Regions from separate parts of the Homo sapiens genome. Here region 1 is linked to region 2. Evidence: fine-mapped expression QTL. A gene starts in region 2. The other region holds a variant in brackets. All regions are shown on one strand. Distances are from middle to middle.

What was found. PIP is the estimated chance that this variant, and not a neighbour inherited with it, causes the effect.
Region 1: its variant is fine-mapped to the expression of MMP2-AS1 in liver (GTEx, PIP above 0.99).

Annotation. Positions count from the first base shown.
Region 1 is chr16:55,427,057-55,432,576 of GRCh38, reverse strand. It overlaps MMP2-AS1 (MMP2 antisense RNA 1), which reads left to right. Exons shown (of 7, transcript NR_147198.1): 5 at 3,097-3,216; 6 at 4,993-5,076. Among named protein-coding and RNA genes, the nearest start is that of MMP2-AS1, 32 kb to the left of the region's middle. The variant G/A (reference allele first, on the strand shown) is at 3,287.
Region 2 is chr16:55,459,339-55,464,338 of GRCh38, reverse strand. MMP2-AS1 (MMP2 antisense RNA 1) reads left to right here and starts at 2,042. Exons shown (of 7, transcript NR_147198.1): 1 at 2,042-2,164.

The sequences.
Region 1 (5,520 bases), 32 kb after region 2:
TTAATATATAGAAGTTGTTGCTAAAAGTTGAAGAATGAATAAATAATATTTTTCATATCCTTTTTACAGCTTTAGATTCATGGCACAGAGAAACCCCAGAGCTTGTCCTAGATCACTCAGTGATCTTAGAGTAGATTCCTAAGACTTCTTCTCTAGCTTGGTCATTTCCAGAAGACTTCACACTCAGGTTTTCCAAAGCATGTATTTATCCCATGCAGTTACTTATAAATTAGAGCCCCCTTGGAAATTCAATGATTTCACAACTAAATCTAAATTTCATTTCTTTTTTTTTTTTTTTTTTGAGATGGAGTCTTGCTCTGTCGCCCAGGCTGAAGTGCAGTGGTGCAATCTCGGCTCACTGCAAGCTCTGCCTCCCGGGTTCATGCCATTCTCCTACCTCAGCCTCCTGAGTAGCTGGGACTATAGGCGCCCGCCACCACACCTGGCTAATTTTTTGTATTTTTGTGGAGATGGGGTTTCACCATGTTAACCAGGATGGTCTTGATCTCCTGACCTCGTGATCTGCCCGCCTTGGCCTCCCAAAGTGCTGGGATTACAGACGTGAGCCACAGCGCCTGGCTCAACTAAATCTAAATTTCTTATTTCTTTTGATAAGTCAGGAAATCTGGAGACATTGGACAGGCTCCTCTTCCCAATTAGCCACACTCCCCACCATGCCCCAAGACTTCCCCAATACCAGGGGATGTGTTGTTATGTAATACCATGCTTGCACTGTTGCTTTTTTCTTATATAGAGGACCACAGTTGTATGGCTGTGGCTTTAACAGACATGGAAGCAAAATGAACCTAGAATTAGACTCATGTTTGGAGAAGAATGAGAAGGAACACATTTTTTGGTGGAAGTGACAATTATTCCTATGTGCTATCTTTAAGGTACAAAGGACTCCTTACTTCACTCATTTTCACATGCACTCTCTTTGCTGTAACTCCTGTGACCAAGTCCCCAGGCATTGAGACTCATCCCATAGAGAAGCAGTAGGGCACAGGGGTTAGGAGCATGGCCCTTCTGGGTTTTCTTTGGCTAAGTTAGCTTGGGTAAAGTTAGCAAGTTTTGTTGGGCTGGGGTTAAGCTCCTTAACTTCTCTTTCCTTCAGTGTCCTCATCTTCAAAAGGGGGTGATGATGATAATAACACCTATCTTGTAGGTGATTGTGAAGATGGAATGAAACAAGAAATGTAAAGAGTGAATGAAGCCGGGCACAGTGGCTCATGCCTATAATCCCAGCACTTTGGGAGGCTGAGGCAGGTGGATCACTTGAGGTCAGGAGTTTGAGACCAGCCTGGCCAACATGGCGAAACCCCATCTCTATTAAAAATACAAAAATTAGCCAGGCGTGGTGGTGCGCACCTGTAATCCCAGCTATTGGAAGGCTGAGACATGAGCATCACTTGAACCTGGGAGGCGGAGGTTGCATTGAGCCGAGATCTGGCCACTGTTCTCCAGCATGGGAGACAGAACGAGACTTCATTTAAAAAAAAAAAAGTGAATGATATTACCTGACACCTGGTAAGGAGGCAGAGGACAGGAGTATTTTTGTCATTATGGTGAGTGACAACATACCAACTCACTCATTAGTTAATTTATTTGGTAAGTGAAGATCGACTTAGTGACTAAGAAGGTTGATGCCTTTGAAAAGTGCCAAATCAAAAAATTTGAAGGTTTCTTGGTCCATGTCAGTGGTTCTCAATCCTGGAAGTGGATGGGAATAATCTTTGTTGCTCTCCCCAGATACTAGTCTGGGGACCCACCAAAGAGCAATTACACCAGACCCTCCAGGGACAGGATTTGTGGCCCCCAGAATGATGACAACTATGCCAGGTTACGGTCAGGATGGGAAACTCGTCTCAAGTCAGGTCAAGGTCATGCGCAGTCCTGAGACCAGGTGCCTCCTTACATTACACACCCTCAGTGCCTCATTTACCTGCCCTGGTCCCTGTCTTGCCTCAAACCACTAAAACAGAAACTCCATGAGGGCAGAGACTTTTTCCCTATTTTTCTTTCACTACTATCCCAGTGCCTGGAACAGCAGTGCACATATAATATGCTCTTGATAAATACTTATTGAGAGAATGAATAAATGGATACATGAATAGGCCCATCTTCCAAAGGTTCGGATTGCAGTCACCTCTTTGCTAGAGACTGCTGGATTTGCTCTACATAAACCAGAAGAGTGGAGTCCTAGACTTCAGATGCTCAGTGTTTCCAGAAGAGACCTTCAAGGTCAGCTGGGACAATTTCTTTTTTTTTTTTTCCAAACCATCTCTCATCATCATGATATTTTCCTTGTCTGCATCCCACTTGAGCTGTTATTTCCTTAATGGTGGCTTTACATCAATTCGTGCTTACTTAGAAACATCTGTCTGACAAAGAAACCCTAAAAAGATCAGTTCTGCCAAGGAAAAACTATCACTTGCCATACATAGAAAGGCAACTGTGAAATTAAGTACAAAGGAAATAAATCAAGTTATGAAATGGAGTTGGATGCTGATGCCTGCTGAGGATGTGAGCCTGGGCCTTCCCCTCTTATCATTATGAAGAGAGGGTTGAAAACATTGCAGAGGTGTTAAAGAGATGTTAGCATTGGATTGAGACTTTCTCTTAGAGGGAGTCAGAGGCTAGAAAGAGTCCAGAAGTGATACCTTTCTCTCTCTGAGTTAGTACTGTTTAATACCATGTCTTTGCATGTCACCCAAACCCATCCATGTGCTGCCCAACCATCAGTGGTATTCATCCCACTGGAGAAATCCATAGTTAGTCCCAGCTCCTTATTTTGTAAGACTTAGGTCCAAAGAGGCCCAAGTTCATATTCATTTATTCATTCATGCATTTGTTTGACATATATCAAACACCTCCTATATGCCTGGCACTGTGAACTAGACAGGCTAAGTCCCAGCTATTTTGGAGCTACCAACCCAGGGTCAGAGGAGGGGCTATACCTTTGGTCCCAGACCCCTAGTGCAGTGCTCCTTCTCTGCCCCTTCTCAGAAGGTGTTTTTGTAATCCCCATCTACACCCTACCCTCATGGGTGACTTGGGCACTTAGTGTTGCATTAACATCGTTTCCTTTTAATAAAGCAGCTACATTTTCACCCCATCCCGGGCTCCATGTTCCTGCTGCACACACATCAAGAATGCTGCTAATTTCAGCGTCTGCCTTCCAGACCCAGACGTCAAAACAACTACCTTTCATCTCAGGTTTGTAACACAGAAAACCTTCAATATTGGGAACAGATAACCTCGAAGGTGGGTTCATATCTCTCAGCAC[G/A]ATTGCTGTAACTTAACTCTGCTGCACCCGATCAAGGCTTTCTCTCTGCCTCATAGGTATTTTAATACAAATGTTCCTTTCATTTGGCTGATTGAAGGTCTCCAACCTGCAATAAATGAAACATCTGATCCCCTTGAATCCAAATAACTTTTTCTTTGATTTTCTTTTACTTCTATTTCTTCGTCCTTTGTTCTACAGCCCGAGTCAAATTTCCCTTTAGAAATTGAAAGAATGTGTGTGGGTTTTTCCTGCTTTTTTTTTTTTTTTAACCAAGCTCTAGTGCAACCGCTGGTTCATGGACTAGAATATTAAGATCCAATTCAATGGCAGACTGTCTCCAGCAATGTTGTATTTTTATTTTTTTTTGCCGTCATCCCCCCCACCCACTTGTGAGCAATGGTTGTACAAATTAGCCTCTGTGTACTAGTCACCGAAGCTGGCTTCCCAATTAACCCCAGGCTTGAGAGAAAATAAGACTAAAGATTCTTCCCCTCCTGAAAGAACTAAGTTATCCATGCACAAAAGCCTACATGTTGGCACCTGGCTATGGAGTTGGGCATTTAATTGCCTTTGTAATGACTCAGTCCATCTGCATGGTATTGGGTCCCCAGTTTCAGGTAATGGGCCAGAGGGGTCTTATTAGTCTCTGGAATGACCAGGCCATGTGTATTCATCACTTCGAAAGGCAAGCAGGGTCTGTGAGAAGCTGGTGAAGCTCTTTGTGTGTTCACATCTCTGATTGTGCCCTGTGTCCACACTTAGCCAGGACACCTACCCACTTAGTGGTCTTGGCTTTGTTTCTAGGGTGAGGGCTTGAGCTGTGGGTAACAGTGCTGATTATTACATGCTAGTAAGATTGTCTCCCTCTTTGAAGTGGTAGAAAGGTTTGTCCCTTCAGGGTGATTGGGTGAATATCAGAAAGCAACCACAGGAACATTTTGTTGTACTTTGCTAAGGTCTAAATATTTGTCTCCTCCCACCAAAAATTAGTGGTTGAAACCTCATCCCCAGTGTGATGAAATGAGGAGGTGAGGCCTTTGGGAGGTGACGAGGTCTTGAAGGCAGAGCCTTTATGGATGGGATTAGTACCCATATAAAAGAGACCTCAGGGAGCTTGTTCACCCCTTCTGTCATGTTGAGTACTCAGCAAGAAGATGCCATCTATGAGGAATGGACCCCCACCAGACACCCAATCTGCCAGTAACTTGATCTTGGACTTCCCAGCCTCCAGAACTGTGAGGAATCAGTTTCTGCTATTTATGAGTTACCCAGTCTATGGCATTTTGCTATGGCAGCCCAAATAGACTGAGACATACTCCTTAACCTTTGACCCACTTCTGTTTAGGCCCAGCCAGCCTTCCTGAGCCTGTGCATAGTCTTCCTGGCTCAAGGAACTCTCTCTACCGAGGTGTGATCTCCTAACTCCTGGCACTCATTTACCTATCCATGGTTGGTAGTCAGCCTCCAAGATGCCTGCAGTCATCCCTGCCTCCTGGGATTCATATCCTCCTCCACATTGTGCCAGGATTGGGCTCTGTGGCCAAAAAGAAAACAGCAGATGAGAGGACGTGTCTCTTCTCAGAAGGGTTAGAAAAGACTGTGGCTTCCATTTTAGATGACTTTCTCTCTCTCTCTCTCTCTCTCTCTCTCTCTCTCTCTCTCTCTCCTCTTTTCCTTCTTCTCTTCCTTGGATCTCTTGCTCTGAGGAAAGCAAACTACTATGTTGTGAGCAGCCCAATGGAGAGGCCCACAAGACAACGAACTGAAGCCTCCAGCAACAACCCTGTGAGGTCAGTTTGGAAGTGGATTTTCTAGCCCCAATTGAGCTTAAGATGACTTCAGCTTCAGCAGACAGCTTGACTGCAGCCTTTCTAGAGAGCAAGCACCACCCAGCTCTGCTGCTTCTAGACCCCTGACCTCAGAAATTGCACGAGATAACATGTTTGCTGTTTCAGGCTGCCAAATTTAGGGGTAAGCTGTTATGTAGCAATAAATACCAGCACACCATGTGAGCTCGTCTCTCGAGGGACTCTCTGAGGCTCCTGATGTTCCTGGTTGGCTCCCTCAATCTATGTGCTTGTTGTCCCTTAATATGTATTTTCAGTTCTTCCTTCATAAGAAACACCCTTAGCTTTTAAGTGGATCCTTGGCTGCCTGGAATAAACACTACATTGCCCCAGGTTTTTTGGCAGTTAAATGTGATCATGTGACTTAACCGTATTCTAGTCAATGGG
Region 2 (5,000 bases):
GTTACACAGAGAGTGAGTGTTGACCCAGGCAATCTGCTCTGGTGCCCACACTCTTAGGCTGGTGCCATCCAGTGCCCCCGGAGCAAGCAAGATTTGGCTTCTGCACCCTCAATGACATCAGTATTTTCTCTGGGCATCCTCGGCCAAAGCACCGTCCCTCTGGGGCTCTCTGTCTCTATATGTTTATTTGCCTGGTAAATGCTTATTAAGCCCTGTGCTGAGTGCTGGATATATAGCAGCAATTAACCGCAGTCATTGCTCTTGTGGCGTTTGCATTCCAGTGGGGAGACAGGCAATACAGAGCAAACAGACTCATACACAAGGTAATTTTAGATGGCTAGGAGACCTGGGAGGGATGAGGTCAAGATTATCTGATGAGGGCAACTTGAGAATGGGTCGTCAGGGAGGGCCTCTTGGAGGCCCTTGTTAGGTGTGAGTCCTGAAGGAGGAAAATGAAGCAGTCACATGCAGAACAAGGGGAAGAGTGTTCCAGGTAGAGCAGATGGCAAGTGCAAAGGCCCTGGGGTGGGAACAAGCTTTTTTGTATTTGAAGAACAGAAGAAGGCCACTGTGGCTGGAGCAGAGCGACAGGCACAATGAGCTTTTGTGGGTTTGGTTGGCGAGCATGTGTCCCCATCTCCTTGGGAGTTGTCCCTCCTCCCCACTGAGGACAGTGTTTCTGGGAAGGTGGATTGGGTTACTGTCCTGCCCTCTTCAGAAGCCAAGACAGTTCTAAGCCTTCCTCCTACTACCCTGCCAGGGTGGGGCTGTAATCTAGGCTGAGCCAATGGGACACTCATATGGTTTTTTTTTTTTTTTTTTTTTTTTGAGACAGAGTTTCACTCTTGTCACCCAGGCTGGAGTGCAATGGCATGACCTCGACTCACTGCAACCTCTGCCTCCTGGGTTGAAGCAATTAGCTTGCCTCAGCCTCCTGAGTAGCTGGGATTACAGATGCCCACCACCAGGCTTGGCAAATTTTTATATTTTTGGTAGAGACAGGGTTTCACCATGTTGGCCAGGCTGGTCTCGAACTCCTGACCTCAGGTGATCCACCTGAAAGTGCTGGGATGACAGACGTGAGCCACCGTGCCCGGCCCACTCATATGACCTCGCGTGACATAGATACAGATGGAACAATGGCAGCCCAGGCACAGCAACTGCGGGACCCTGAGGCCTGGTGTTCCCACCTTGATGTCTGCTCCAGTTGCCTGGCTCCCTTATCCTATTCTAACAAATCCCCCTTCGCTTATGTTGCCAGAGTTTACTTCTGTGGCCTACACCCAAATGACCCTACTGATGCAGTGGAGGAATGAAGGCAGATGAAGTTGGGCCCAGATGCGCTAGGCCTGGTTGGCCAAGCCAAGGAATTGGGTTGTGTTCCAAGGAAAATGAGGTCCCTGGGGATTTTTCTGGCACTGCCCTTCTGAGATGCTGTGATTCTGTGTGGGTGGCTTCCCACCTATGGGCATGACCTTAATCCACCAGCCCCTGTCCAGAAGCTCTCCCCTGCCCACCCAGGCCCAGGTCCCCACCACACTCTACCGCTAATGCACAATTGCCCTCCGCAGGCACCCAGGCAAGGTGAGCTTGGGATTACTTGTGTATTTCCCATGCACCCCCAATAAGGTCTCTCTATGGCTCAGATAAACATCTCTAAGATTTTATCCCTACCATACACTCCACCAAATGAAGAGTAAAACGAGAAGGGAGGAGAAATAGACAATCAGAACGTTCATCTTATATGTTGTGGAGCCCAGGAAGGGGACTGAGGAGGGGTCAGGGAGCCAAGGTTCAGCCAGTGCCCCAAGTGCCTCCTGCCCTTGAATTCCGAAGCATCAGGAATCAGTCACGGTAACAACAGCCAGCTGGTGACCCCAATCCCTCTGCACAGCAACAAGCCTTGGCTCTTGTTTTTCTAAGAATCCAGTCAATCCTCTTTCCTGTAAGTTGCAACCCAGTCCTCCCCCCAGGCCGGGCTGAGGACACAGCTTGTCTTCCCGATGGTGTCACCTAGAACTCTGGTTCCCCTGCTCCCTTTCTCTTCAAATAGGAAAATTGGCACAGCTTGACTTTCTTCCACTGCCCTCCCAGCCACAGCTTAGACACCTACAAACTCCCACCGCAGGCTGGAGTGCCCTGGAGCCCTAACTGTGATACCCAGGTCAGTTTCCAAATCTGTACCTTTCTGCGTCTCCTGTTCCAACTCTCAGTGAACTCAGCTGGTTCCTGCCCTTCCTCCCCAATGACCAGCCCTGAGGAATTGACAGCTAGGCCACAGCCGCCTCTTCCTCCAGCTTGACCCTAATTGGAATAAGTACCTCTATCATGGAATCCCAGAGGGACTTACGGTGGGGTTGTAGGCAGTGAGCCATGATTGCACTACTGCTCTCCAGCCTGGGCAACAGAGTGAGACCTTCCAAGAGAGAAAGAGAGAAAGAGGGAAAGAGAGAGAGAGAGAACAGAAACAGGAAAAGAAAGAAAGAAAGAAAGAAAGAAAGAAAGAAAGAAAGAAAGAAAGAAAGAAACCATTTAACATTTAAAGTTTACATTTAACAAGGGCTTACAATATGCCAGGTGTTTTACAAGTATTCATTAATTGATTCAAAAGACATTTATTGAGGGGTGTAAAATGATTATCTCTATTTTATAGATGAAGAAACTGAGGCACACAGAGGTGAAATAGCTTGCACAAATGTTGCTTAGCTGGTAAGTAGATTAGTCATGGCAAAGCTAAGCTAGGCAGCCTGCCTTCTTTTTTTTTTTTTTTTTTTCCGTGATGGAGTCTTGCTTTGTCATCCAGTCTGGAGTGCAGTGGCGTGATCTCGGCTCACTGCAACCTCCACCTCCCAGGTTCAAGCGATTCTCCTGCCTCAGTCTCCCAAGTAACTGGGATTACAGGCATGCGCATTTTTTTTTTTTTTGTATTTTTAGCAGAGACAGGGTTTTGCCATGTTGGCCAGGCTGGTCTCAAACTCCTGACCTTGTGATCCACCCACCTCAGCCTCCCAAAGTGCTGGGATTACAGGTGTGAGCCACCATGCCCAGCCCTTATAGTCTTAATAACTGAAAGACAACAGCTTCTAGAAGGATTTTGTAGCTCTCAGCATTGCCTGCCATGTCTGCACTGGGCAAGGCCTTTCCCGGGCAATTTCCTTTCCCATGACAGAAAATGGGTGGTGACCACTCTATCCTGATGTTGTGTGGTCAGCTATCTGGCTGTGGGTGCAAAAAGGATGCACTGAGACCAGGTTTTGAAGGCATTTACAGACACATGGAGCTCTTGGAAGGCTCCTCAGCTTGTCCTCTGGAGTGGTTCTCAGAGGTGGATGATGCCGCAGAAGCAGAAATGCTGCAGGTTCTCGCTTGGAACCTTCCATCCAGTCCAGGCCTGGAGGAGCAGCCATCCAGGCAGGAATTGCAGGAAAGGCTACAATCCGTAGAGAGATCTGAAAATGAGTCTATCTTAGTGAGGCAGCAGTTGGGAGCAAGAAACAGAAGCCCCCTTAGACTAACTAAGGAGAAGGGAGTCGGAGTATGATTACAAGAACCCTAGGAGGCCAGCGGCGGGGCTTGAAAATCACGGGCTCAGGCTGCACTCAGCTCTTTCTCCCTGCGGTCTCTGTTCCCCAAGCTCCCCTCTCTGCAGCCACCCTGGGCAGCTCACTCTCCCTATCCCCTGACCCCTCACAGTGGCTCCGTGTGATCTCTCGGTCCACTCAGCTGTCCTTCCAGGTCCCTGTGGAGAATCCCTGAGATAGGAACATAGAAGGTGTGGGGGCCAGAGGGGGTGCAGAAGGTGAGGCACCATTTCATCCGTAACAGCCATGACCAGAAATGCTAGTAAATGCTTTTTGAGGCTTGTTTCATCGTGAGATTTTGCTTCAGAGGCCATTTGGGCGTTTTTCAGCCCTGGCCTCTTTGGCTGCCGGAAATAAGATCCCACTCTAGCAAAGGGAGGTCCTTTTTTCTTCTTTTACAATTCCACATCTTTCCAAGGGTGATATTCAGTAAGCCCACCTCAGATGGCATCTGAGAGTGTTAGATTTTGCTCATCTGATGCTGAGGATGGTGTCTGAAACACAGTCAGTGCTGAGTAGTTGTTGTGAGCAGGAGCGGTTGGCTTCCTGCATATCCCAATGAAATCAGCCCGGGGGCTGCAGGGTGCTTTTCGGAGGGGCCATTCCCCAGGAGAGTGAGGATTGTGGGGATCCCAGTCAGTCCTGTCTCTCTGAATTCAGCCAGCTGCTTTCCTGAGCTCCCAAACAAGGCCGTTTTTTCAGCATCTATTACATTGGTGCAAAAGTAAATGTGGTTTTACTCAATGGTAAAACCACAATTACCTTTGCACCAACCTAATAGGGTTCCAAGACCTTGGGTGTCACAGGCCCAGGCAAATGAAGCTGAGGGCCAGGGGTGAGAGGAGATGGCTGGATTGGAGACTGGTGCATGAACTGGGCATAAGCACTGCAGGAGGGAAGCTGGGTGGGGCCTGGGAGAGCTGCTTTCGGGGATTCTGAGGCTGCAAAGGAGTCTGTGGTTGGAAATAACCCCCAAGAAAAGGACAGACTGGTGTCAGGGTGTGAAATGTCCTTAGACCTCTCCTCTGCCCCACCCCAGTGACCTAGAACTCAGCTAGTTTTGATGCTTGTTGAACCAGAAATGCTGTTGACTGAGTCTCTGAACCCTCTATTTTTTTGTAGGGGGAGGGAGGGAGTCACATAGAGCTGCTTTTTTTTTTTTTTTTTTTTTTTGAGACTGAGTCTCGCTGTATTGCCAGGCTGGAGTGCAGTGGTGTAATCTCGGCTCACTGCAACCTCTGCTTCCCGGGTTCAAGTGATTCTCCTGCCTCAGACTCTTGAGTATCTGGGATTGCAGGTGTGTGCCACCACACCCAGCTAATTTTTGATGTTTTAGTAGAGACAGAGGTTCACCATGTTGGCCAGACTGATCTCAAACTCCTGGCCTCAAGTGATCCATCTGCCTTGGCCTCCCAAAGT